Linked DNA regions of Homo sapiens. The protein of the gene in region 1 interacts with the protein of each later gene in a pairwise test. Each region holds a gene or a part of one and is shown in the gene's direction. Other genes may lie near its edges. The genes, in order: C2CD2L, ZDHHC15, OPRM1 and TMPRSS2.

The links.
Region 2: the proteins of C2CD2L (region 1) and ZDHHC15 interact in binary tests that used the Homo sapiens proteins (3 or more experiments, as listed by UniProt).
Region 3: the proteins of C2CD2L (region 1) and OPRM1 interact in binary tests that used the Homo sapiens proteins (3 or more experiments, as listed by UniProt).
Region 4: the proteins of C2CD2L (region 1) and TMPRSS2 interact in binary tests that used the Homo sapiens proteins (3 or more experiments, as listed by UniProt).

Annotation. Positions count from the first base shown.
Region 1 is NC_000011.10:119,110,340-119,117,366, forward strand, and holds part of C2CD2L (phospholipid transfer protein C2CD2L), read left to right. Parts: intron 1-221; coding exon 222-341; intron 342-507; coding exon 508-618; intron 619-712; coding exon 713-829; intron 830-923; coding exon 924-1,035; intron 1,036-1,181; coding exon 1,182-1,290; intron 1,291-1,988; coding exon 1,989-2,053; intron 2,054-2,142; coding exon 2,143-2,270; intron 2,271-2,360; coding exon 2,361-2,535; intron 2,536-3,271; coding exon 3,272-3,373; intron 3,374-3,512; coding exon of another isoform or gene 3,513-3,515; coding exon 3,516-3,649; intron 3,650-3,740; coding exon 3,741-4,026; intron 4,027-5,685; coding exon of another isoform or gene 5,686-5,705; coding exon 5,706-5,917; 3' UTR 5,918-7,027.
Region 2 is NC_000023.11:75,429,037-75,436,063, reverse strand, and holds part of ZDHHC15 (palmitoyltransferase ZDHHC15), read left to right. Parts: intron 1-4,543; coding exon 4,544-4,613; intron 4,614-6,083; coding exon 6,084-6,116; intron 6,117-6,865; coding exon 6,866-6,986; intron 6,987-7,027. UniProt on the Homo sapiens protein: Palmitoyltransferase that catalyzes the addition of palmitate onto various protein substrates.
Region 3 is NC_000006.12:154,084,229-154,091,255, forward strand, and holds part of OPRM1 (mu-type opioid receptor), read left to right. Parts: intron 1-2,278; exon of another isoform or gene 2,279-3,576; intron 3,577-5,533; exon of another isoform or gene 5,534-5,597; coding exon 5,598-5,950; intron 5,951-6,723; coding exon 6,724-7,027. UniProt on the Homo sapiens protein: Receptor for endogenous opioids such as beta-endorphin and endomorphin. Receptor for natural and synthetic opioids including morphine, heroin, DAMGO, fentanyl, etorphine, buprenorphin and methadone.
Region 4 is NC_000021.9:41,498,137-41,505,163, reverse strand, and holds part of TMPRSS2 (transmembrane protease serine 2), read left to right. Parts: intron 1-6,974; coding exon of another isoform or gene 6,975-7,027. UniProt on the Homo sapiens protein: Plasma membrane-anchored serine protease that cleaves at arginine residues. Participates in proteolytic cascades of relevance for the normal physiologic function of the prostate.

The DNA of each region.
Region 1 (7,027 bases):
CCATTGAAGTTATGTGCAAAATGTTGGATGTGTGTTTATATGCATTTTTCTGGGGAGAGGAGTCTTTGGCATTTATCTGATTCTTTTAGGGATTTATGATCCTGAAAACATGAAGTCCTTAGGAAAACGGAAGTGGGGAGGGGTCTGCTGAACTATTACAGGGCAGTTCAAAGCAGGGTGAGCACCCTTCCCCCACATCTGACCCACCTCGCCGGTCTCAGGTGCTGCGTTGCCAGCTCTCTGCTGAGGAGGTGCGGTTCCCAGTCTCTGTGACCCAGCAGTCCCCCGCTGCCGTCTCCATGGAGACCTACCACGTCACTCTGACACTGCCACCAACACAGGTAGAAGGGGATGTGGGAAACTGAGTTGGGCAGGGGCGGTTCCATTGGCTCAGCTTCTTCCATTTGTTTCCTCTCTGGGATGGAATTCAGGAAGGGAGAGTCCTCGAATTAGGAGTCCTTGGGTAAATGGGGCAAGTCAGCCCAGTCACTTTGTTCCTGTCTGTAGTTGGAAGTCAACCTGGAGGAAATCCCTGGTGAGGGGCTGCTCATATCCTGGGCCTTCACTGATCGCCCAGATCTCAGCCTAACGGTGCTTCCCAAGCTTCAGGCCAGGGAGGTAAGGAGGCAGAGCTGGCAGAGAAGAGGCAGAACGGGGAGGGAGGCAGAGGTGGGGGATCCACCTCCTTGTTGTTCCCTTCTTCTCTCTGCAGAGAGGTGAAGAACAAGTGGAGCTCTCCACAATTGAGGAACTGATCAAGGATGCCATAGTCAGCACCCAGCCAGCCATGATGGTCAACCTCAGGGCTTGCTCTGCCCCAGGAGGCCTGGTGAGTTGGCACCCAAAGCAAAAGATTTGCATGCACCTTGTTCCTAGGGTGCTATGTCAGGATTCTTGCTCTTTGGACCTTCTTCTGCTCTTAGGTACCCAGTGAGAAGCCACCCATGATGCCCCAGGCTCAGCCAGCCATCCCCAGACCTAACCGGTTATTCCTACGGCAGCTTCGGGCATCTCACTTGGGAAATGAGCTGGAAGGTGAGAGCTGGAAGTGGCTGCGGGACTGCCAAGGCTATGGTTGGTTGCAGATGCTCTCTGCCCCTCTGCCAAGGGTACAGCCTCTTTATTCTGCAGTGACTTCCCATCTCTGATCTGAGCATCTTCTAACTTCTGGTTCATCACAGGCACCGAGGAACTGTGCTGTGTAGCTGAACTCGACAACCCCATGCAGCAGAAGTGGACCAAGCCCGCGAGGGCTGGATCCGAGGTGGAGTGGACAGAAGACCTGGCACTGTAAGGAGTAACCCTGCCCCGACCCCATGCTCCAGAGCAGAGAGGATCAAACCTTTCCAGCACAGTCCTTGCAGGAATCAGCTCTGTTTTCAGTAGCCTTTGGCGTGAGCTCCTATTGTATGCCAGGCCCTGGCGTGGGTCTTAGGGATACAGACTTGACCAAGATACAGCCCCCACCCCTGGGTCAATGACAAGCTTGAGGCAGAGACAGGTGTACATAAAGAAGATGGTAAAACCGCTCCAGTTGAGGTTTATGTAATGTGCCGTCAGAGTGCCTAGGTGGGGGGGAGATTAATTCCCATGAGGGAATAAGGATCAGAGTAGGCTTCATGGAGGAGATGACATTTAAACCACACTTTAGAGCAAGAGTAGGATTTCATCAGAGTGTGAAAGTATTCTCGGCAGAGGGAAGAGCTGGAGCAAATGAAAGAGGGTGGCTTGCAACTGAGAGACTGGCAAGACAGGAAGAGCAGGACCAGGGAGGATTTGAATGCATAGCTGAGAAGCATGGTTTCCACTCAGGCCCTGTCCCTTTCTCTTGGGACGAGAGAGAATTTGGAGGCCAGGAGAATCTGATTGGAGCATTTATGCCGTTTTATTTATGTACACAGCTCTCTGCCTCTGGCCTGTGATCCACTCAAGTGTGGGTTCAGCTTGCTAATTTTCTCCTTCCTGCCCCATCTCCTCTTGTCCCACAGGGATCTGGGCCCCCAGAGCCGGGAGCTGACCCTCAAAGTGCTGAGGAGCAGCAGCTGTGGAGACAGTAAGTGAGGGGTGGGAGGGGCACCCCTGGGTGGGTACAGAGTGGGGTCTGGCCATGGGCCCAGCTCACAGTGCCATCCCTTTCCCCAGCCGAACTCCTAGGCCAGGCCACACTGCCTGTGGGCTCCCCCTCCAGACCACTGTCTCGAAGACAGTTGTGCCCACTCACCCCAGGGCCAGGGAAAGCCCTGGGACCAGCAGCCACCATGGCAGTGGAGGTGAGAAGCTGACCCCTGGGGTAGGTGGGAGGACACAGGGGATGGGCAGTCTCCGAGGCTCTGTCTCTTCTCTCTCCCACCCCTGGGCAGCTTCACTATGAGGAGGGCTCTCCCCGGAACCTGGGTACTCCCACCTCCTCCACTCCACGCCCCAGCATCACACCTACCAAGAAGATTGAGCTTGACCGGACCATCATGCCCGATGGCACCATTGTCACCACAGTCACCACTGTCCAGTCCCGGCCCCGTATAGACGGCAAATTAGGTAAAGAGAAGGAGCCTGGGAGCCCAGCTCTAGCCAGGGGCCCGGGACTGCAGACCCAAGGCAGGACAGTGAAAGAGGAGAGAGCCTTAATTCCAACTCCCCCTGTTTTCAGACATTCCATTCCAGTCCTACCACATCTTCCTCCCAATCTTTGTCTCTTCCAAACTTTCCCTTACCTCCTGCCATTTCCCCAGCAATTCCTCTCACTCTGCCACCCTTCTGGATCCTCCTGCCCCTCCTCATACAGGACTGTTGCACTCCTACCTTCCAGCTTCCCCTCTGGCTTTTCACAGGTGTCCTTAGCCCCAGCTGACTATAATTGTCCATCCTGCTACCCTCAGCCCTCCAGCACCCCCTGGGGTCCTCCAACAAACCCAGAGGCCTCTGTGGCATTTCTACCCCACTCAGTGGGCCCCCATGGCACTTCTGCCATTATAGGGGCCCCACTGAATTGCCCCAACTTCAGGGAGCCCCAGTACCCCCTCTGTCCCCGCTCCATATTTTCATAGCATCTCCCCACACCTTCAGCAGGCCCCATGGCACTTTCCTACACTCCCATTAGCTCCTGGGGTGTCTTTTAGTCCCCACGGCATCTTCCTAATCACCCTTGTGATTAATCACCCTTTAATCATTCTTGCCCTCTGAGTCACCCAAAGTCTGCATCTCAACAAAGACAGTAGGGGTGGGGGCCACTCTGAAGCAACTCCCAGCTCACTGACCCTCCCCCACCCACCAGACTCCCCCTCCCGCTCCCCGTCCAAGGTGGAGGTGACCGAGAAGACGACAACTGTGCTGAGTGAGAGCAGTGGCCCCAGCAATACCTCCCATAGCAGCAGCCGTGAGTGGGGAATGGGGTGCATGAGTGTGGGTTGGCCCTGGTGCCCCAGCATCAAAAAGTACTCTGGGTGGGATAGGAGGAGTTCCAATCCAAGAAAGAGCCAGGGAGAAGTCAGGTTATTCATTCTCTGCACCCCTAGCAGGGGACAGCCACCTTTCCAACGGCTTGGACCCTGTAGCAGAGACAGCGATTCGCCAGCTGACAGAGCCCAGTGGGCGGGTGGCCAAGAAGACACCCACCAAGCGCAGCACTCTCATCATCTCTGGTGTTTCCAAGGTAACAGGGCTCTGGGGAGAGGAGCTGGGATGGGGAGAAAGCCCTAATGGGTCGGTCACTCCTGCCCATTAAAACCCGTCCCTCCTGCCAGGTGCCCATTGCTCAGGACGAGTTGGCGCTATCCCTGGGCTATGCGGCATCCCTGGAAGCCTCAGTGCAGGATGATGCAGGGACCAGCGGAGGCCCCTCTTCACCTCCCTCAGACCCACCAGCCATGTCTCCAGGACCGCTAGATGCCCTCTCTAGTCCCACAAGTGTCCAGGAAGCAGACGAGACAACCCGTTCGGATATTTCTGAGAGGCCATCTGTGGATGATATTGAGTCGGAAACGGGGTCCACTGGTGCCCTGGAGACCCGCAGCCTCAAGGATCACAAAGGTAGGGGGACGTTGGCAGGGTGCCCCTCATCTCTTCTTTTATACACATATCATGACCTGGGGGACCTCGAGCCAGTGTGCCTTCTCCTTCCTCCCCTAAGAGATAGCCGGATTCCCAGCCTAGTTCAGCCAAGCTAGCCTAGAGGGGGATCTTGGTGCCTTGGTTCCTGGCCTAGATCTGACATGCTTGTGATAGGAAGGGATGCCAAATTATTTCCCTTTACCTCCATTGTTCTTTCTTCCTGAGTCTAAGTGCCATTTTTCCTGCCCTTTAAAAAAAAATTATAAAAATTTATTCCTAGGCAGGGTGTGGTGGCTCACACCGGCACTTTGGGAGGCCAAGGCGGGTGGCTTACCTGAGTCCAGGAGTTCAAGACTAGCCTGGGCAACATGGCGAGACCCCATCTCTACTAAAAATACAATAAATTGGCTGGGCGTAGTGGCACACACCTGTAATCTCAGCTACTCAGGGGGCTGAGGAGGGAGGATTCCTTGAGCCTGGGAGGTTGAGGTTCAAGGAGGTTGAAGCAGTGAGCCGTGATTGTGCCACTGCACTCCAGCCTGGGTGACAGAGTGAGACCCTGTCTCAAAAAAAATTTTTTTTTTCCATGGCTGGGCACGGTGGTTAATGCCTGTAATCCTAGCACTTTGGGAGGCCAAAGCGGGTGGATCACAAGGTCAGGAGTTCAAGACCAGCCTGGCCAACATGGGTAAACCCCATCTCTACTAAAAATACAAACATTAGCCAGACGTGGTGGCAGGCGCCTATAATCCCAGCTACTTGGGAGGCTGAGGCAGGAGAATCGCTTGAACTGGGGGGTTGGAGGTTGCAGTGAGCCCAGATCATGACACTGCACTCCAGCCTGGGTGACAGAGTGAGACTCTGTCTCAAAAAAAAAAAAAAAAAAAAAAAATTCTTCCCTTTCAATCTGCACCCTCTCCCCAATGAGTATAAGAAATCCTACCCTTGGATTATCCATCTGGCAGCAAGACAGGCAGTGACCAGTGGTGGTAGTTCTTCTAACTTTAAAAGATGAGAGGCTCACCCTAAAACATCTTCATTCCTCTACCAGTGAGACTATCAACCATGGATCTATCTATCTATTTTTTAAGCCTGCATCACTTCTTGAGATAATGAGGTTTCTACCTCCAAAGCCTGCTGGGTGAGCACCTTGCTCATTATACTGGTTCTGAATTTACCTCTTTGAAGTTTCTAGATGCACCACTTCCTGCTCACAGCCTGGAATTCGGTTAACAAGTCAGTGTCAACCTACCTTTCCCTTCATGATTTATAGACTTTTGGGAGTACCTTCTGGTAGCTTTTGTCTTCCCATAGGAAAGAGGCCCAATCCCAGTTTGTCCTCACAAAGCGGCCAGCTCCGTGATATCTCTTTTGCGGGCAGAGTTAAGATTGTACACAGATCCCCACAAGTACCACGATTTTTGCCTCAGGAAGGATAAAGCACATGTTTGTTTCTGCTTTCGTTTTCTTTTTTCTTTTTTTCACGAAGCCTTATGGAGAAGTATGTTTCTGCTTTCTTTCCTGAGGAAGCCTGGCTTCTGGGCCACGGGACTGATCCTGTCCACATCCTCTTTCCCTCCATTCTCCATCGTGTCTCTGCCCCCGTCTCACCCCACCCCGTGCCCCTCTCTGCCTCAGCTTCCCCTCTTCCCCTGCAGTGAGTTTCCTGCGCAGCGGCACTAAGCTCATCTTCCGCCGGAGGCCTAGGCAGAAGGAAGCTGGCCTGAGCCAATCACACGATGACCTCTCCAACGCAACGGCCACGCCCAGTGTCCGAAAGAAGGCCGGCAGCTTTTCTCGCCGCCTTATCAAGCGCTTTTCCTTCAAATCCAAACCCAAGGCCAATGGTAACCCCAGCCCCCAGCTCTGAGGACCCAGCTCTGAAAGGGCACGAGTTCTCTCAGCCCATTCCCCACCTCCCCTTCCATACCCCTTCCTGGATCTCCAGTGCCTGGGCCAGGAAAGCCCTCTGGGTTCCGGGAAGCCCCGTCCACCCTGGGCCATGGGGCCGGTTGGAAGGATACTTGGAACGGGAAGCACATGAGAGGTGGGCACCCGGTGCCGAGGACATGGACGAGGGACTGGTGGCTGGGAGGGAGAGGAGGGCCCTGTCCGGCATGTGTGGGTATTCCCCAGAAGCATTTGCCTCCTGCTGAGCCTGGTCCCTGAGCGGAGTCCCAGGGTGCTCAGCTCTTCAGCTGACCCTTCTTCCCTTATTTATTCTCTTTTCTATTTATATGTGTGGCTTAGGACCCTCCGTGAACAGATGATAGAGGGCATCTCTCCCAGGTGACCCTTCTTTTCTGTCCCAGGAGGGTGGGTAATTCCCTTTGGGATGGGGCTCCCACACCTCCCTCAGGTCCCCACTCAGACCAGCACCAGTGTCTGCCTCTGAGAATGTTGGCAGCTCACAGAGAGCAGGGCCGGCCCGGGATGGGGGGCAGGTACTCCCCACCTTCCTGCCTCCCCTCCTGCTCCTCATCCCTCCCTCCCCCTTTATTACCGTTTTTTGTACTTGATGCCTTCTCTGTGAGCAGTGGCTCTGTGGGAAGGAGGGAGCCGGGAGCCTGGTGGGAAGCCTTCCCCAGAGAGATGGCTTTAGGGGCTTTATTTAAAGACTGTGATGATGGAGCCACGCAAGGCTGCACCTCTGTGTGTTGGGAGACGATGATGATGTCCATTGCTGTGTGATGGCTTGGAATTTAATTTATTAAAGTCAAATTGGAGTTTATAAACTGGACAACTGGTTATCCTTTGAAAGGCAGTAGGCAGCCAGGCTGTGACATGGATGGTGTGGGAGGATGAGACAGGGGCCCGGATAATGAGGTTGGGTAGATGACACACATTGTGGATCTGCTAAGAAGTTCCTGCAGGGAAGAAGGGGTGTGCAGAGAAAGGATGGAAGAGACAGGAGGCTCTGGAGTATGAAATTGTAGCAAAAAACTCAATCAACTAGTACAGGTTAGTCTTCATTCCCCTT
Region 2 (7,027 bases), on another chromosome or scaffold:
TAAACCAGAAAGAAATGGGAACTCTGAAGAGGCCAGTAACAAGCAGCAAGATTAAAATGGTAATAAAAAAATTGCCAACAAAAAAAAGTCCAGGGCCAGATGGATTCACAGCTGAATTCTATCAGACACTCAAAGAAGAATTGGTACCACTCCTACTGAAACTATTCCAAAAGACAGAGAAAGAGGGAATCCTTCCTAAATTATTCTATGAAGCCAATATTACCCTAGTACCAAAAACCAGGAAAGAACATAGCTAAAAAAGAAAACTGCAGACCAATATTCCTAATGAATATAGATGCAGAAATCCTCAACAAAATACTAGCTAACCGAATTCAACAGCATATCAAAAACATAATCCATCATCATCATGTGGGTTTCATACCATGGATTCAGGGTTGGTTTAACACAGGCAAGTCAATAAATGTGGTACACCACATAAACATAAGTAAAAACAAAAATCACATGATCATCTCAATAGACGCAGAAAAAACATTTGACAAAATCCAGCATCCCTTTATGATTAAAATCCTCAGCAAAATCAGCATAGAAGGGAAATATGTTAAGGTAATAAAAGCCATCTATGACAAACCCACAGCTAAATTATACTGAATGGGGAAAAGTTGAAAGCATTGTTCCTGAGAACTGGAACAAGACAAAGATGCCCACTTTCACCATTTCTATTCAACATAGTACTGGAAGTCCTAGCCAGAGTGATCAGACAAGAGAAAGAAATAAAGGACATCCAAATGAATAAAGAGGAAGTCAAACAGTCACTGTTTGCTGATAATGTGATCATATACCTAGAAAACCCTAAAGACTCTTCCAAAAAGCTCCTGGATCTGATCAATGAATTCAATAAAATTTCACGTTACAAAATTAATGTATACAAATCAGTAGCAGTGCTATACACCAACAGCAACCAAGCTGAGAATCAAATCAAGAACTCCACTACTTTTACTATAGCAGAAAACAAACAAACAAACAAAACTTAGAAATATACCTAACCAAGGACATGAAAGACCTCTACAAGGAAAACTACAAAACACTGCTGAAAGAAATCATAGACAACGTAAACAAATGGAAACACATCCCATGCCCATGAATGGGTATAATCAATATTGTGAAAATGACCATGCTGCCAAAAGCAATATACACATTCAATGCAATTCCCATCAAACTACCACCATCATTCTTCACAGCACTGGAAAAAACAATTCTAAAATTCATGTGAAACTATAAAAGCCCGCATTAGGCAAAGCAAGAGTAAGCAAAAAGAACAAATCTGGAGGCATCACGTTACCTGACTTCAAACTATACTACAAGGCTATAGTCACCAAAGCAGCATGGTACAGGTATAAAAATAGGTGCATAGACCAATGGAACAGAATAGGAACCCAGAAATAAGCCCAAATACTTACAGCTAACTGATTTTTGACAAAGCAAACAAAAACATAAAGTGGGGAAAGACACCCTATTCAACAAATGATGCTGGGATAATTGGCAAGCCACATGTAGAAGAATGAAACTGGATCCTCATTTATCACCATATACAAAAATCTACTGAACTCAAGTTGGATCGAAGACTTAAATCTAAGACCTGAAACCATAAACATTATAGAAGATAACATTGGAAAAACTTTGCTAGATATTGGCCTATGCAAATAGTTCATGACCAAGAACCCAAAGGCAAATGCAACACCAACAAAGATAAATTGATGGGACTTAATTAAACTAGAAAGCTTCTGCATAGGAAAAGAAATAGCAGAGTAAACAGACAACCCAAAGGCTGGGAAAAATTATCCACAAACTATGCATGTGACAAGGGACGAATATCCAGAATCTACAAGGAACCCAAACAAATCAGCAAGAAAAAAACAATCCCATCAAAAAGTGGGCTAAGGACCTGAATAAACAATTCTCAAAAGAAGATATACAAATGGCCAACAAACGTGAAAATATTCTCAACATCACTAATTTTCAGGGAAATGCAAGTCAAAACCACAATGCAATACCACCTTATTCCTGCAAGAATGGCCGTAATTTAAAAATCAAAGCATAATAAACGTTGGCTTTGATGTGGTGAAAAGGGAACGCTTTTACACTCCTGGTGGGAATATGAACTACTACAACCACTATGGAAAACAGTATGGAGATTCCTTAAAGAACTAACGTAGATCTGTCATTTGATCCAACAATCCCACTCCTGGGTATTTACCCAGAGCAAAAGAAGTCATTATATGAAAAAGACACTTGCACAGGCATGTTCATCGCAACACAGTTTGCAATTACAAATTACAAAAATATGGAACCAGCCCAAACCAATGAGTGAATAAAGAAAATGTTACATATATATATATATATATATACACACACACACACACACACACACACACACACACACACACACTACTCAGCCATAAAAAATATACACTACTTGGCCATAAAAAGGGAACAAAATCATGGCATTCTCAGCAACCTGGATGGAGTTGGAGACCATTATTCTATGTAAAGTAACTCAGGAGTGGAAAACCTAATATCATATGTTTTCAATTATGAGTGAGAGCTAAGCTATGAGGATGCAAAAGCCTAAGAATGATATAGTGTACTCTGGGGACTCAGGGGGAAGGGTAGGGGGTGGCAAGGGTTAACAGACTACATGCTGGGTACAGTGTTTACGGCTTAGATGGTGGGTGCACCAAAATCTCAGAAATCACCACTAAACAACTTATCCATGTAACCAAACACCACCTGTTCCCCAAAAACCTATTGAAATAAAAAAAGTAAAATTAACCATCATACCAAAAGGAGCAGAGGGATGATCATCCCAGGCAAAAGGAACTGCAAGCACAAAAAGCCTTGAAACAGGAGCAAGCTTGATTACAAGAGCAGATAGGCAGCCAGTTTCACTGGAACATAGTATGAGGAGAGTTTTACAAGATTCATTTGAAGAGATAGGCAGAGGCTAGATGATACAGGCCATGGTAAGGAGTTTGGATTTTATTCTGAAGGTGTTGGAAATCCATTGAGAGTTTTAAGTGGAGAGTGATATGATCTGATTTACATTTTTTTTTTTATTTTTAGAAACAGGATCTTGCTCTATCGCCCAGGCTGGAGTACAGTGGTTCATTCATGGATCACAGCAGCCTCGAACTCCTGGGCTCTAGCAATCCTCCCGCCTCGGCCTCCCAAGTAGCTGAGGCCACAAGTGCACACCACCATGCCTGGCTAATTTATTTTATTTTATTTTTTTATAGAGACAGGGTCTCACTATGTTGTCCAGGCTGGTCTGGAACTCTTGGTCTCAAGCGATAGTTGTGCCTCAGTCTCTCAAAGTGCTGGGATTATAGACATGAGCCACTACACCAGATCTGATGTAGATTTTGACAGATCACCCAGCTACTCTGTATAGTAGGTCTTTTGAGGGGCAAGTATGAAAGCAGAGTGATAAATTACACAGATATTGCAGTCAACTAGCTAAGAGACAATGTGGCTTAAATGAGGATAGGAGCATTGACAGTATATTTTAAAATATGCAAAAGGACCCAGATATGCATGTTCTTCTCCCTTCCTCTTTGACTCAATTATACCCACGACTTTAGTCACTCACATACTTCCATTAGTGGAAGTAAACACAAATCTCTGCTGAATTAACTGTCTATTGTGTTGAATCAGTAATATGTGCTTAATGTACACTTTAGATGAAATGATTATATTAGTTCAAATTATTCATCATTTTAGTTTTTATACTTAATAATCACATTAAACACAGTCGTACTCTATCAATGAACATCTAGAAAATGAGAGGGAAAGTAAAATACCTTTCATCTAAAGGAAAGGAAGGAAGGAAGAAAGGAAGGAATGAAGGAGGGAGGGAAGGAGGAATGATTTTTTTATATTAGAATCCTAAAATAAGAATTACAGAGTTAAAAGAATCCTAAAATAAGAAATCATCAAAACTGTACAGGTCACAGCCCTGCCAGCAACTTGCTGTGTGACCCTGGGCAAATCACTTGATATGACCCAGATCTTTATTTCCTTTATCTGTGAAATGGTCAATTAAACTAATTGTTCTAGAATGTCTCTTCTGTTCCCCAAATTATTATTCTAGAAACCACTCTCTTTACCATGTTTTAGGAGTGTTATCCACCACATACAATCCAACCTCTGGAGACAGGAGATAAACTGTGAATCCTTATTTTCAGATCAGAAAGTTGGGGGTAAATAGAGGCTAAATGGTTTTTCAAGATCCCTCAAGCATTTGATAGTATAGTTTGTTTTATAATGAAAGATCTTATGACAGATATCCAGATAAGAAACTTTTCTCGTTCCTTTCAGCCCCCAAAAGTGCTTTCAAAATTGGATACAACAAGGAAAAAAATATATACCCCAATTCTCTTATGTAGTCTGCCTTTTGCTTGGTAACTTGAGATGAGTTTGACTATCTATAATCAGTGCATAACAAGTCATCCAGATAAGCTAGTAAGATATAAGGTCTTATATTGAGCCCTAACAAGTGCTAACCACCTTATTTTTTTTTTTATAGCTGTACGATTCTGTGACCGGTGTCATCTGATCAAGCCAGACCGCTGCCACCACTGCTCTGTCTGTGCTATGTAAGTGACGGCCATATTTCCCCTGGGCTGGGCTTGGCCACTGAAGGTTTCCTAGACAACAAAATGACTGATCCTAACATGTAATCATACCTAGATAAGAGCATTTCCTTTCAATTATAATGAGCATATGCCAAAACCCCTCACACGGATGATGATGATCCAAGCTACTCTAAAGATAAGTAAGAGAAGTAAGACCACATTTTAAAAACTAACATTGTATTTGTGGACAGTTTTAGACTTACAGATTTATTGTGAAGATAGTTCTTGTATGTCTCACACCCAGTTTCCCTTGTTGTTAACATCTTATATTTGTATGATACATTTGTTACAATTAATGAACTAATACTGATACATTATTTTTAACTGAAGTCTATATTTAGATTTCCTCAGTTTTTCCATAATGTCCTTTATCTGTTCCAGGATCCCATCCAGGATACCACATTACATTTAATAGTGATGTCTCATCTCCTTAGCTTCTCTTAGCTGTGGCAGTATCCCAGACTTGTTTTTGATAACCTTGACAGTATTTAGGATTAATGGTCAAGTAGGTCATAGAGTGTCCCTTGATTGAGATTTGTTTGATGCTTTCCTCATCATTGTTAGACTGGGGTAATATGATCTGGGGGAGGAAGACGACAGAGTAAGGTGCCATTCTCATTACATCATATTAAGGGTACCTATAAACATGACTTATCACTGAAAGGTTAATTTTGATCATCTGGCTGAGGTAGTATGTCAGGTTTCACCACTGTAAAATTGTTCTTCCTTTCTATGCTTTACTCTTTGAAAGGAAGTCACTATGCACAGCCAACACTAAAGGAATGGAAAGTTATGCCCTCCATCCTTGAAGGTGGAGTATCTACACAAATTATTTCAAGTTATTTTGCTTGGGACATTTATCTCTTCTCTTCATTTATTTATTTATTCAATCATTTATTTATATCAGTATGAAAGCATAAATATTCATTTTACATTTTGCATTATAACCCAATACTACTTTTTTGTTGCCCAAATTGTTCCAGCTTTGCAAACCCCATTTTTATATTGATACATGTAATGCCTTTTCTCTTGAGTACTTATTCCACCCATATTTTTCTTACCCTTGATTCAGATAGAGGCTATAGCCATATATTTTCTTCTGTATTTTTATTAAACTAAGTATTGAATAAAATGATAGGAGACATCTTGAACCTTTTCTCTGTATTAATAATCTGGAGTTTCCAATCCCTTTGAAAGGTTGGACTTATAAGCATGTAACTTGCTGCTGGCATGATCCTATAAAGTGTTGTTGTGATTACCTCATCCTAGAAATAACTGAGGGCCACAGTTTTGGAGTCACTATAGTGGAAATCTGAGAATGGGTGTTATTAGAACCATGTAAAAATACTGGTGAAACCTTGAGTTTAATTATGAGATGTTGCTTCATTTCCATAGCCTCACTTATCACACTGTATTTTGTCCCCTTCGTAGGTGTGTGTTAAAAATGGATCATCACTGCCCTTGGTATGTCTGTTTGATTCATTTCTCTCCTCTAAAGGGGTCAAAGTTGCTCAATTATATGCACTTTTCTAAGCATAGTTGTCACATGCCTGTTTCTGCCACCATAATTCACTGGGTTTTATATTTCTGTAGGGGACAGGGGAGGGGTAACATTTTAAATAAAGAAAAAATATAACACCAAAGGTATGGTAGTGAATTCCTGGAGTTACAAAGCTAATGGTCTCATATTCATTAACTTTAGCAATTGAGCATAGTAATGAAATACAGCACAAACATTTCTCCTTTTAACATTACACAATTCAGTTCTGTTTCTAGTTGGCTTGATGTTTGAAATATTCTAGAATGTTAAATTCAGCAATTTTCCAAATTTTGTATATCAGACCCTGCGGGCCAGTCTGAAATCACCTAACTACAAAAAGAACATGCCACAACTGTACCAAATGTAGCTGCTAAAACTGTAATACATTTTTAGCAACCAGGATCCAGGTTTGCTTGGATGTGTCACGAACCAGTCCAGAGCTATTAGGCAGGCCAGGTGTTTCTGTGCCTGTAAATGAAAGAATAAACAAGTGAGACATGAACTTGTTTTATCCAGTTTGTTCTTATTAAGGGACTTCTATCTCTATTGGGCTTTTACACGACACATAATGAAGCAGCAGAACTAGCATTATTCCATTGCTTAGTTCACTTATGTATCAGTGTGCTCTCAATCAAGAGGTCCTGATGTCAAATTAGTTTTTCTTTTTTTTTAGGGTTAATAACTGCATTGGATTTTCCAACTACAAATTCTTCCTTCAATTCTTAGCTTACTCTGTTCTCTACTGCCTGTACATTGCTACGACAGTCTTCAGCTATTTCATCAAATACTGGAGAGTAAGTTAAAAATATCCTGAAGGGTCCCCTAGAACAAATGC
Region 3 (7,027 bases), on another chromosome or scaffold:
TAAATGTTTCACAACATTTTATAGCAAAGTGAGAAGTCCTCCATTCTCCCCTTCACTAAGCTAGTGGAGAATATAATACAAAATAGCAACCTAATATATAGTCTTTCTCCATGTTAATGCCAATGAGAGGATAATCACTAGTTTTGATTATGCTTTTTCTTATTTTAGAACCTCCCCCCCCAACAGACAGACAGACACACACACACACACTCACAAGTAAAAACGCACCTGGGATATCAGAATGGAATAGATGGATAATAATGGATCAATTAACTCAGGTAGATACTCATTTGACCATATTCTTTGCCTAAATAATTACTTGAAATGTAGGAAAGTATCTTTATCTCATTGGATTGATCCAATTAAATATGAGTATTAAAGTATGACACTCTAGGGAGGATTTTTTTCTCGACTAAAAAGGTTAATTTCTATGTGAGGGTAAGTGGACATAAAAGTCATGGCAAATGCAAGAAATATATCTTTCCAAGCACATTGCTGAACATATAAAAGGGGCTTGTTGAATTCTTACTGAATTAGGTATCTTTCTTCACACTACTTGGTAAAAAAAATGAAAAGGCAGAAAAATTAGCCCCAAAAGAGATGAAACTCTTCCGTCCATCACCATTGACTCTATTGTGAACTTATGAAAAAGGTAGTTGAGCAATATGAAGGCCATGATGTGGAATTAAACACACACACACACACACACACACACACACACACATGCTGGATTCTAAAATGTGTCCTTCCTCCTCTCACTCTCTTGATCAGTTTTATTTCTGAACTGAGACACGATCACCACAATTCAAATAATTAACCACAAAACTAAACAGAAGTTTACAAAACCCATCAGGTGTACAGAGGTAATTTATTTAGTCTGGCTTCACTTAACACAAATAGGTCAAAAGCAATCACATTTTGTAAGTAGTAATAGTTGGAGAAATGTGTGAAGAATAGGTCAAAAGATAAATAAGAATTATTTTATAACCATAAGAAAGGAAGAACATCTATAAACAAAAGTCATATATGCAACATAAAAGAATAGGTGAGCTGCCAGCAAATGGGCCTCACAATGCCTTTTCCCCAACACTTCTGGAAGTTCCATAAAAATCACTCTAATGGGTCAAACATCGATGGTTCTCAGAAGAACACAATTTTTTTCAAAAACGAATAGCATTGTAAATTCATTTGAATTCATAAAACAAAAGAGCTATTTAATCATCTAGACCAAAGTTAAAGAAATACCTACTACAAAAATTTTAATGGGATAATTAGAAAGAAATAGCTTGGGCCACTGCTTCGAGCAGAAGATGGAGTTCAGTGGCTACCATAGGAAGGGTCAATATCAGGATGGCCTGTGAGTCCAGATGAGTCTCTCTTTGCCCATTTTGCCACAGAACACATTCACAGCACAGTACAAAGCAGTAGGCATGGAGTAAGGAAAAAGGCTTGTGTTTTAATAGCCAGGAGTTCTACTCGGACCCACTCAGGTAAACTGAATGGCAAAGATAATTCTTCCTGCAGGTCATTTCTTTTGCTAGTTTGCTAACTCTGAGTCCTATGCTCCTGTGCAAGGCCCATGATGTGACTCTGAGCATTCATTGAACTTTGCTGGGACAACATTCATGCCACCACATCAGAACAGAATGAAAGCTTGCCCTTTTTTTTTTTTTTTTTGAGACAGTGTCTCTCTCTGTTGCTCAGGCTGGAATGCAGTGGTACGATTCTCCTGCCTCAGCCTCCCAAGTAGCTGGGATTGCAGGTGCCTGCCACCACCCCCAGCTAATTTTTCTAATTTTAGTAGAGACAGGGTTGACCAGGCTGGTCTCCTTCCCCTGCCCTCAAGTGATCCATTCACCTCAGCCTCCCAAAGTGCTGGGATTATAGGCTTGAGCCACCAGGCCCAGCCCACATTACTCCTTTTCTGATTAGACCATCTCTTCAGATTAAAGCCTTTGGGTATATGCTGGAGGCAATTGGAATTCTTAATCCTTTAGCTTTGTATAATTTTCTTTCACATATTTAGAAGATCGTTGAGCCCCCTTTTATATGTTGCTGTGATCCAAAGCATGAGTAACTGGGGTAAGAATGCTGGCTATCTTTAGAGGAAGACTTTTTAAATAAATTGAGAAAAATTAAACAGCATCATTCCTATAAAATGCCCGTTGAAAGAATTTTTATAGATAAATATTCACTTTTTTTTGGTAAATTGATGATAAAATTATGTATATTTACCATATACAACATGATGTTTTGAAATGTATACACATTGTGGAATGGCTAGCATGCTAATTAACTATGCATAACCACGTTTCCTTTCACCATGTTGAACCCTGACATAATTTTTTTTTCCACAAACACCTCACTCTGGAGAAGGAAATGATTTTTTTTAATTAAAATAAACATACATTGGAAATACTTAGTGCTAAAATAAGCCTGAAGGAAAGGTTGGAAGTATGATGAGTCAGAAAACTGACTGTAAAGAAACCAATTACTTAACATAAAACACCATTAAAGATAAGCCACGAAATGTAAGGTCTGCTGGGTAGGAAAGTGGCAAATGCAATGAAGCATGTCTTTAGATCATGCAGGTCTATAACCAACGGTGAATCTAGCAAAAGTTATTTTCTCTTTTGGGGAGAAACTTCTTCTTATTAAAAAAATAAAAAATGTTTCAACTTCTTGAGCACCAAGGTCAATTATTCTAAATCTTAAAACCACAGTTTTAATTTTGCTTTTTTGTTGGTTTTTGTACTTTGGAGTATTTGTCTACATTATCCTTTTTATATTTGCCATATTTAAAGTCCAAACTAAAAGCAAATTATTTTCTCTCCTCAAGTTAAATGGCTCTATCTTTTTCTTTAAAATCCATTAAGAAAGTGAAACTCCCAAAGTAAGTCCAAAAAAAAGCCCCCAAGTCTGAAAATGTGGAGCTTTTCTGGCAGTAATGCAGCTTCTGCAAGTATTGCAGACCAGATCAGGTATCAGAATTTTAAAGCTTCAGTAACAAAGCTGTCCTATTGACCCTGAGGAGATTTATGAAATCACTTTCCTGATGTTATTGAAACCAAAACACTTTCCTGGACACTGAATTCAGTCCTAAACAAAGGGCCTCCAACCAACAGCTGTCTTGGGCTGAATGAGTTAGACTCAACCTCGTGTGACGGAAAAACAGTAAACACAAGCTAACATTTAAAAGGAATTGATGGCACCGTGTAAATCAGAAGCCCAAGGAGGGCCTGGCTTCAGGTGTGGGGTTCTCTCTCACGCTCTCAAATCCACATCCTCCGGATTAGGTCCATTTTCAGACAAGCTCCTCCAGCAACTACATACCATGCGTCTTCTCAGGTGTGGGTCCTGCAGGAAAACTAATACACTCTTTGTCCATAAGTCTCAAAATAAACTCTCACTGGCTCTGGTTGGAACATGAGAGCATCCTTGCCATTCACCATGGCCCCGGTCACTAAACGTCTTCACGCCCTGGACTGGTAATACAGCCTATCCCAAAGCACCTGGACTGAGAACGGGAAATGAGTGGTTCCCAGAGTGAAACTGAGGTACTATTACTAAATTAAGGTAAATATATGTGGAATGTTAAAAAAAAAATGATGTCCAATGTTTACAAGGTATACTTCTGCCATCAGATATAATGTATTATTGCAAGTGTACCTGCTTATATTCTACTATCATATTTCTAATTTCTGCAGGCCTTGAAAACATATAACACTCCTAGATACTTACCCAGGAGGAAGAAAAGCATATGTTTATATAAAGACTTGCACATGAATGTTCGTAACAGTTCATTTGTAACATCCAAAAGTTGTATGCAACTCAGTTCCCATTAATAGGTGAATGGATTAAAAAAAAAAACAGATGAATGCATAAGTAATACTACTTGTCAATAACAAGGAATTAATTCTTGTTATATGCAACCACATAGATGAATCTCAAAATAATGACACTGAGTGAAAGAAGCAGCACAAAAAAAGAGTACATACTGAATGATTCTATTTGCATCTTCTAGGAAATGCAAACTAATCTATAAGAACAGAAAGCAAACCAAGATCAGCAATTGCCTGAGGAATAGTGAGGGTTGGATATGAGGACAGGGAGGGGCAAACAGGAAAGATTAAAGAGCTACACAAAGACACTTTTGGGAGCAATTGATGTCATTATCTTCATCAGAGGTTGACATTTTTTTCTGTAAAGTGCAAGATAGTAAATAACTTAGGCTTTGCATGTCATCTGATCTCTGTTGCAATTATTGAACTTTGCCATTGTAGCATCAAAACACTTATGGGTTTTTAAATAGGTGTATTTATTTATAAAACAGGCAACGGTCCAATTGGGTCTACACACCATAGTTTGCCAATCTCTGATCTTAATTATGGTGGTGGTTTCACAGGTGTACACACGTATCAAAGCTTATCAAATTGTATACTTTAATTATGCGTTATTTATTATAGGTCAATTCCACCTCAATAAAGCATTAAAAAATAAAAACAAAGCAAACACACTTGGGTTCCTCATCATGGATTGGATAGAGTCTAATCTTACCATGGCATACAAGTTCTTCATGTACTGGCCTCTCTTCTTCCCCAGTCAGATCCCTTGCCATTCCCTGGTAGAATGTGCTTGACACACACATCAGGCCATTCCAACTCTACATCTTTGTTGGGGTTCTCTCTGTTACCTCTCTGTCTAGAATGACCTGCTCCTACCAAGTGTCTAACTCAATCATCCTGCTTGTGCTTTGAGATTAAACTTGCACTTCCAGGATGCCTTCCACATCTTACTCCTACTATTCCCTTTGCCTTATGCTCTGTGAGATGCCTCATCTCTGTGCCCCATAATCGCCTGTGTGTTTGTATGTGCATGTGTTTGTGTACATACCTATAGACACTTGCACAATTATACTTCTTGATAATTTTAACTATATTTATATAGCTAAAATTTTCTCTTTTATATTTAGAATTACTATCCAGTCGCTGCCCCTACTATTTGACTGGAATCTCCCTCTTTCTATTAGACCTATCACAATGACTGACACATTACAAAAAAAAAAATTAAAACCCTCACTGCGTGTGGTGTCTCATGCCTGTAACACAAACACTTTGGGAGGCCGAGGAGGGAGGACTGCTTGAGCCCAAGAGTTCAAGACCACCCTAAGCAACATGTCAAGACCCTGTCCCTACAAAAGTTTTTTAAAATTAACAGGGTATGGTGGCATGCACCTGGGATCCCAGTTATTCAGGAGGTGAGGCAAGAGGATCTCTTGAGTCCAGGAGGTTAAAGCTGTAGTGAGCTCTGTTCATACCATTACACTCCAGCCTGGGTAACAGGGCAAGATCCTATCCAAAAAAAAAAAAAAAGGAAGAAACTCAACAAAGCAGCATCGTTGCTATTATTGCAGCTATTTAGCCAATAGGTACATCATTGACATCATTGTAAATAGCCAAGCTGATACTGGAAAACAATTCTATATCTAATCTCAAAAAAGCTTTCTACTAATTCATGCAAATTTATTATTGGAAGCTTACCTATATTTTACACTAGTGTCTTTTACTGATTCTCACTCTTCTTCCTTTATCTCCTAGATACACCAAGATGAAGACTGCCACCAACATCTACATTTTCAACCTTGCTCTGGCAGATGCCTTAGCCACCAGTACCCTGCCCTTCCAGAGTGTGAATTACCTAATGGGAACATGGCCATTTGGAACCATCCTTTGCAAGATAGTGATCTCCATAGATTACTATAACATGTTCACCAGCATATTCACCCTCTGCACCATGAGTGTTGATCGATACATTGCAGTCTGCCACCCTGTCAAGGCCTTAGATTTCCGTACTCCCCGAAATGCCAAAATTATCAATGTCTGCAACTGGATCCTCTCTTCAGCCATTGGTCTTCCTGTAATGTTCATGGCTACAACAAAATACAGGCAAGGTGAGTGATGTTACCAGCCTGAGGGAAGGAGGGTTCACAGCCTGATATGTTGGTGATGTCATAAGCAAAGCAGTATTTATGGAGTGCCCCATTGTCTTAGTCACATTGTAATTTTAATTATTCTTCCTAGCAAAAAAAGCCTTTGAATACTTAAAAATAGGAATTTTCCTCATAATTTTAGGCCTATTAAATCCTTTAAAGAGAATGTAATCTATTTATTTCTGATTTCTCTGTATTTACTTCATAAAAATGGTGTGTAAATTAGTACATAGCTCTCCCAAGAGTAATTGGAGCTTAAACCCAAAGAGTATTACACTGAGGCTTGTTTAAAATTATCAAGTGGCTGACTACATGGCAAATGTATCTTTCTACACCTAATATCAGAATATTGAACAATCCATCAAAAAATGAAGTGAAAACATCCATTACCTGGAGCCGCCTAGAGACTTTGGACAATTATTACATTTTTTATATCAATATAGACCTCATGGAGGATCTAGCTCATGTTGAGAGGTTCATTTTTGTTCCCTGAACGAAAGCTTAATGTGATCGAAGTGGACTGCAAAATGGGAAATTTAGAAAAAAACAAAAAACATTAGAAGTAAAACTTTCTTTGAAAAGTAACAAACAACTGAGTTTCTTCCACAATTTCTTTATAGCCTTAAGTTAGCTCTGGTCAAGGCTAAAAATGAATGAGCAAAATGGCAGTATTAACACCTTATGACATAATTAAATGTTGCTGCTAATTTTTCCTTTAAATTCCTTTCTTCTAGGTTCCATAGATTGTACACTAACATTCTCTCATCCAACCTGGTACTGGGAAAACCTGCTGAAGATCTGTGTTTTCATCTTCGCCTTCATTATGCCAGTGCTCATCATTACCGTGTGCTATGGACTGATGATCTTGCGCCTCAAGAGTGTCCGCATGCTCTCTGGCTCCAAAGAAAAGGACAGGAATCTTCGAAGGATCACCAGGATGGTGCTGGTGGTGGTGGCTGTGTTCATCGTCTGCTGGACTCCCATTCACATTTACGTCATCATTAAAGCCTTGGTTACAATCCCAGAAACTACGTTCCA
Region 4 (7,027 bases), on another chromosome or scaffold:
AAGGAAAGGTGAATGGTCAATGGAGTGCTTGTTCAGTTTTGGTTGCTGAAGACTTGGAAAGTGGCCTTGCTAGTGGGGAGAGTGAGGGCAGGGAGAGCTCCCTGTGGGGAACCAGAGAGCCCAGGAGCATTGAAGGCCCAGGTGCATTTCTGCTCTCTGGTCCCTCCTGCTCTGCACTCCCTGAGTGTCCCTCATCCCACAGTCACCAGGCCTTTGCTACTCTTCCCCGCCCCTCCTTACTTTCCAGGACACCTGCCAGGGGATCCTCCAATATGGGATGCACTGCGTGGCCTCAGGATTGGGGTGCAGGAGCATTATGTACCTGAGAGCTGAGGCCTGTATGGAGTCAGCCTTTGTGGGGCCCCTCCTGGCCCTAAGGGTGATTTGGGAAGCCCTGACTTGCAAGCACCAGGGGTATGGGCCTGGGTGTGAAGAAGGGGGCTTATGATGTCCCCATGGCCATTGACCACCTTGGCCCCACCGAGCCTGTGGACACCCAAGGAGGAGCAAAAGGGGGATCTGTGACAGGGTAGCAGCTTGGTTGAGCACACAGGCAGCTCTTCAGCATGACCTAGAACAGAGGCTGGGCTCCAGGAGGAGGCAGAGCCTGATCTGGGACTTGGTTATTCCTGGTTGCTGAGCAATGGTCAGGAGAGAGGAACTGAATGAGTGGAAATGCGCTGGTTGGGAGTCGAGGCTGGTTTTCTGGCAGGGGTGTGGGTGGTTACTTTTGTTGTAAACAGAGTGAAGTTTGAGAGGGCAGGAAACTCGAAGACAGGCTTTTCATCCTCCTGGAGGTGAGTCTGGGAGAGGGAGGTGAGGGCTCTGACATCTATGTGTGGATGGCGCTGAGCCATTGGGCATCCATGGCAGGAGGGCAGGAGGAGTTTAGGGCACAGAGTTGTGGTAAGAAAGCAGGAAGTGTTTGAAGGGCACCTTGGCTTGTGGTTGTGGCAGCAGAAGTCTGGAAGTTCACTCAAGGGCAGACTAGGTGGAAAAATCGGGGCTGTCAAGTGGGACTCAGAATGAGAGGTTGTGACAATTGGATTTGTTAGAAAAATATTTTCAAGCGAGGTCTGACTTGGCAGATGGAACTAAGCTGAGGCTTTTTATTATTGCTTGTTTGTACGAGGTGCACAATGCAGTGTCAAATTCCCTTTAAGGCCATTGCTTTCCAAGGGGCTGTCCTGGCGGGGCACTCAGCCTGACCCCACTGCAGTATAGCCCAGGGGTCATGGGAGACCATGCTTTCTAGGGACGATGGGCTTGGAGTTCTTTGTGCAAGATACTGATAACAGAGAATTTGCTGACATTTTCAAGTTCACTGGTGATGATGCATTTATAAGGAGTTGGGAGTAATATGAAAGATCACTATGTCTGGTCTTGATGCTCAAGCCTAATTCTGTTCTGGAATATGTTGGAGAAATGATCCTCCAGTCTTGAAACATACATTTTTAGGTTTGAGGAATTCGGTACATTCTAAGGTAGCTCCAGGCCATATGTGAACTTTCTAATTGTTGGAACCTTGATTTCCCCAGATAGAATCCAAGCCTGCTCTTCTGGAAATTCTGATCATGATTCTGGTATTGTCCTTTGGATGTATGCAGAATAAACTGAATTCCTTTTCCACATAGCCGGCTCTTACGTGTTGGAAGATAAACCTTATCTGCCATCATTATGTTATTATTGAGTGCTCACCATGGGTTGGGCACTGAGCTACGGCCTTGCTTTCTCACTTAATCCCTGCAACAACCCTATTTCTGTATCATCCCCATTTTACAGATTGACTTGGACAAGTTCTTTAAGCCTCAGCCAGTGGCTTGTGTGTGGTGTTGAAGTCTCCGCCTGGAGTGACCTGAGGGCCTCTGCCGCCTGCCTGCCTGTCATGCCAGGTTGCACTCAGCTTGAGGCACCTGGACTCCTGGGAGGTCACCCACTGTCCTGACTTGGGCTGCTGGTGTTGTCTGGGTGTGGGCATCTTATCGCCCTCTGCTAAATTTCATCTTACTCATTTGGCCTTTGGAACTCAAAAAATATATATTTTTTCCTGCAAATTGCATTGTATTTCAAATTTACATTTCCGATCGTCTGTTGTTGGTATATAAAAACACATAGATTTTTATATTGATCTTGTATCCCTCAACTTTGCCAAACATGCTTATTAATTTTTCCCCAATAGTTTTTGGGGTACAGGTGGTAAGAACTCCATAAAAACATTTAAATACTGTCTTTGTAAGCTACAAAGTGAGATTTAAAAAACAAACAGAAAGAGAGAGAACCAGACCTGATATCTGCCCTAAAAAGTTTGTAATCTCTTTGGGACAATGAGTCATTCACAGGAAAAGAAACTTGGATGATGCAGGCAATACCTCTCCTAAGGTGATCTTTCTGTTTCTCGCTCAACCTTTCTCTCTCAGTAGAACTCTTGTGCCAATCATTGTGTATGCAATTTACCTGATTATACATAAACAAGTTTCTGCTGAACAGCCACTGAAATCCACTGTTGGCTAACTCATTTAGTCATGCATTCTATCCTTAGGAGGATAGAACATCTCGTTGTATAATGTGATATTAGTGCGGTTATTTTGGCATAAAGGGCTCTTTTTGATGATTTGGTCATTGGCTGGGATGTGTCCGTGGATGGTGGTGGTGGTGCTGTCTGGATTTTGAAGAAGGGGCACTGAGTCTGAGGCTGTCTGTTCCCTCTCACACCTCCAGCAACTCGAACCGTACCAGTCACAGGTGGGGGCTTCGAGAAGGAGAAGGTGTGTGCACAATGGTGCACGGTGAGGTCAGTGGAGACTTCATTGCAGAGAATACCCCTGGATCTTGGGTGGGAGTCAGTGTCTACAAGCCTAACTTCATTCGCGTTGGCTTGGTTGTTTGGAAAGTAAGTCTCCAGTAAACGTGTCCTGAGATCTCCAGAGGAGAGAAACTAGGAGAAAAGATTCTTGTTTTGGCAGTAACTTCATCATGTCATGGGATGCGGATACGATGCCACAGCATCGTCCTGCTGCATGGTGGCCAGGCAGGTGACTCATGGGCTGACTCAGCTCTCAGTCCAGGATGGACCAAAACAGTGCGAGGACAGCTGTGTGCCATTGTGAGATTCAAGTGGGTGACACTGTCTGTATTGAAGGAAGAGCTCCCTGCCAGCCAGGAATGGAGCCTGAGTGCCACCCACTGTTGCTCTTTCACACTTAAAGGAAAATTTCCCCAAGTGCTCATGGTGGCTGGCTTTCCAGAATTGAGAGCCATCATCCCGGTCCTTTAAATGACAGGAGCAAGCATTCGCTAAACAGCATTGTCTCTCGCCATCTACTTTACGTCTTGCTCCTTTCAGAAATGAGTTAATGCGATGTACAAGCTTGTGTGAATGAGGAAATGCCTGTTTTGAAGATGAACAGGACTGAATGTGATTTCCTGGTCTTTTCGGGACAGCAGTGCTTCCCCTTGCAGATCTAATGTCAGAGCGGGACATTCCCCCCCTTGTTTTATTTTCAATTGGAGAATGTTGTTGTTGTTTCTTTTTTTTTTTTTTTTTTTTTTTTTTTTGAGACAGAGTCTCTCTCTGTCACCCAGGCTGGAGTGCAGTGGCCTAATCTTGGCTGACTGCAACCTCTGCCTCCCAGGTTCAAGTGATTCTCCTGCCTCAGCCTCCCAAGTAGCTGGGATTACAGGCACCCACCATCATACCCAGCTAATTTTTGTATTTTTAGTAGAGATGGGGTTTCACTATGTTGGCCAGGCTGGTCTTGAACTCCTGACCTCAGGTGATCTGCCCGCCTTGGCCTCCCAAAGTGCTGGAATTATAGGCAGGAGCCGCCGTGCCCGGCCCAGCTGGAGAATGTTACTGGCAGCATCACTCTGGTCTTCCATTCCAAAGTCCATGGTAACTGACTTGGGCACACGGAATATTTTTGTTTATCATGTTCTGATTGCTGGAAGAGATAGGATTATCCTGTGACTGCCTCTGGGTCCCATGGCTTTTATTTGACAATTAATGGTGGTGGCTCCCGGTGTTCCTTCCTTCCCTGGCTTCCTTGTTAGGGATCGTGAATGAATAGCAAGTGTGGGTTTTGAGTATTGATTCTTCACTCCTTTCAGAGGGCTTCTGAGCTGGGAGAGCTGCCAATGGGATCGAATTTTCACTTCCTGAAACTTCAACCAAACCTGTAACTGGGGAGATAGGACAGCCGAGAAACCAGAGGCATGAGGATGTGTTTGGTTAGGCAGGACTCTTTGAAAGCAATCTTAGGATGGTACTGAGTTCTGTCCTGCTTATGAGACAAGAATGCGGGATTTATTGTGTTGTCAAGCCTGAGGATCCTCTCTCTTCACAAAGCAGACATAGGCAAGGTCTGTTAAGATGTGGCTAAAAGGCTTAAACGTTTTTGATACATTTTAAATGGTGATCCTTCCCACCTGTACATTAGTCACTTTCCTTTCCTTATACCCAGGAAGGTGTGAACTTTAGTTTTAATCCTAGAAAAAGTCCCAAAGCTACAACATGACCTGGTTCTTGTATTTTTATCTGTAATTGAAGAGTAAATAAATGATTGGTGCATGTTTGTTGTAACCTGTTGGGTGAGGTTTCTCGAGACTAAAAAGCCATATACTCATTTTCATTCATGGCAGGCTGTTGGGGTTTTATAGTTTAATGATTCAGCAACCAGTTCTGCTTAGGACACAGGAAAGCGATGGTGTACTGAAGCCGGCCCCACTCTACTTGGCTCCGTGGTGGGCTTCATGTTGGTAGCCTGGGAATACTTACCGAAGGCAAACCTGCGAATCAAGACAGCCCTCTTTTCCTTCAGCAGGTTGTTAAATGTTTATCAGCTTTATAATTCCTCTTATTTAATGGAAAGTTATATAGCACTCATTTTATGCTAAGCATGAAGCACTTCATTAGTATTAACTCATGGAATGCCCTGGAGGTAGGTGTTACTATTATCTGCATTTGCAGATGGGGAAACTGAGGCACAGAACCTTCAATAGCTTCCTCCAGGTCATGGAGAGTGAGTGGCTGAGCCTGAGTTTGGATCTAGAGTCTAGTCTCAGAGGTCAGGGGCTGAACCGCTGCCCAGTGCTGCCTGCTGCTGTTTGAGCACCTGCTTTGTGCCAGCAACTGGGAAATATTCTTCTGTGGCCATGTCACAGACAGTGGACACTGGTCTGGCCAGGTCCGAAGCCCAGAGCCTCCTCCAGGTTCTTGTTCCCTCATTGGGAACATGGTCTTGTGGACGGATAATCTTGAACCCCGTTTCTTAAAATATTCTTTGGTCATTTAAAGCCAAGCGGGAAGGGGTGGAAAAAAGCCCTTTATTTGCTCAGGAAGGTGCATGTTAAAGAAAAAAAAATCGTCCAATGAGACTTGTTAAAATGGTGAAGCGAACTTTATTCAGGACCACGGAGGCAGGTACAGGGACCACAGCCAGCAGATTTTGCAGTGGGAAGAAGAGACTGGGATCCGCTTGAGTACAGTATGGGCAAGTGGGAGTTAATTTATAACCAAGGATCAGGGTGGGGTTGGTGGGTGGAAAAATCACAAAGAGAAAACATCAAGGGTAAGGGGGATTCTGGCTAAACCAACCAAACAGGATTCTTGCTGAAGACAGGCTGGGTGATCAGACATCACCTGTGGCACGGTGGAGGCTGAGGAACCCGATCAGATATCCAGAGTGATCAGATACCGAGGGTGGGAGGTTCTGGCTAAACTGACTGAGCAAGGTTTTTTGCTAAAACTGGATTTTACAAGGAAATGCACAGATGGCCTAGAAGGTTCAGGAGCTTGATATAAGTTTGATCAAGCGAAGAATCTTTGTCCATGGAGAGTGATGTCAGAATGCGGCTTTACTATACAGCATTTCGTGTTGACGGCATCTCTAGCTATTATTGTTAACTGTTCACAAAGGACAACAAGCAAAATGGCCCACAGCTTTCTTTTCATTACTGCTAATCTTAGCAGTGGTCAAAATGGTTGGCTCTGAATTTCTTTCTTTTTTGGGTTTGGGGTAGTAAATGGAGTGACTGTGGACATGTTTTATGGATTATTTTAAGCGTATGTATCTATTAAAAATTGAGAGGGCCCACATGGCCTGCTTTAAAAAGTCAACTGTGAGCTGTATTTGGTGCTGAGCCCTGAACCACCCGCTGGGCAGTGGGTGGCTACTGGCAGTGCCTGTGGACGTTCTCGGGGAAAGACGGTCTGATTGCACCTGCTCTTCCTCAGTTCCTAGTACTGTGAGGCACTCTTTCCCCACTCTCCCACAACCCTCAGCTTAACACAACTGTGGTGATTGCTTTGTCCGTTTTCCCATGAGGACCCTGAGATTTCAACAAGGTTCAGTAACTCACACATCGACACTTCCAGGGAGCTGTGTTGCCAGGAACTGGCCCAGGTCTTTCCCTCCTGGGCCCATCTTGTCCTTAATCTCTGCTGACATTGATGGGTTTAGTTACCTTGTCGTGTTTCTTCAGTGTTTTATGCCATACAGTCTCCCTTGAGTAGATGTTCTGTATAGGGGATATCACAGCTTCCTGGTGAGAACTGGGTTAAGTCCAGCAGGATGCCTGGGCTTAGTGGCACTGGAGTTGTGGGTGGCCTTGAGCCCCAGGCAGTCCCCTGAGAGCCCTTCCCGATGGATGTTTGAGTCACTGAGTGTGTTCCTTCTTCTTTCTGGTCAGGCTGTCCTGGCCGCTGCACTTACAATTGCACCCCATCCTCCTACCCACTCTGATCCCAGAGGAGAGTGCTTCTGCTGTAACCTCTAAGGCACAAGTGGGTCCCAAAGTCCTTAAATATGGAGGGATGTGGGGAAGCAGTGGTGAAGATGCAGGCCAAAGGTCAGCAGGCAACACTGGTCTTTGTTGTAGGTAACCTTCATCTAGAGATTCTTCTAGTTCTTTCCAGATTTATCTTCTAAAAACTAACTGGTATGGAAATATTACAGTCCTGTAATTCTTTCTTCTAGGTCATATTGAACATTCCAGATACCTATCATTACTCGATGCTGTTGATAACAGC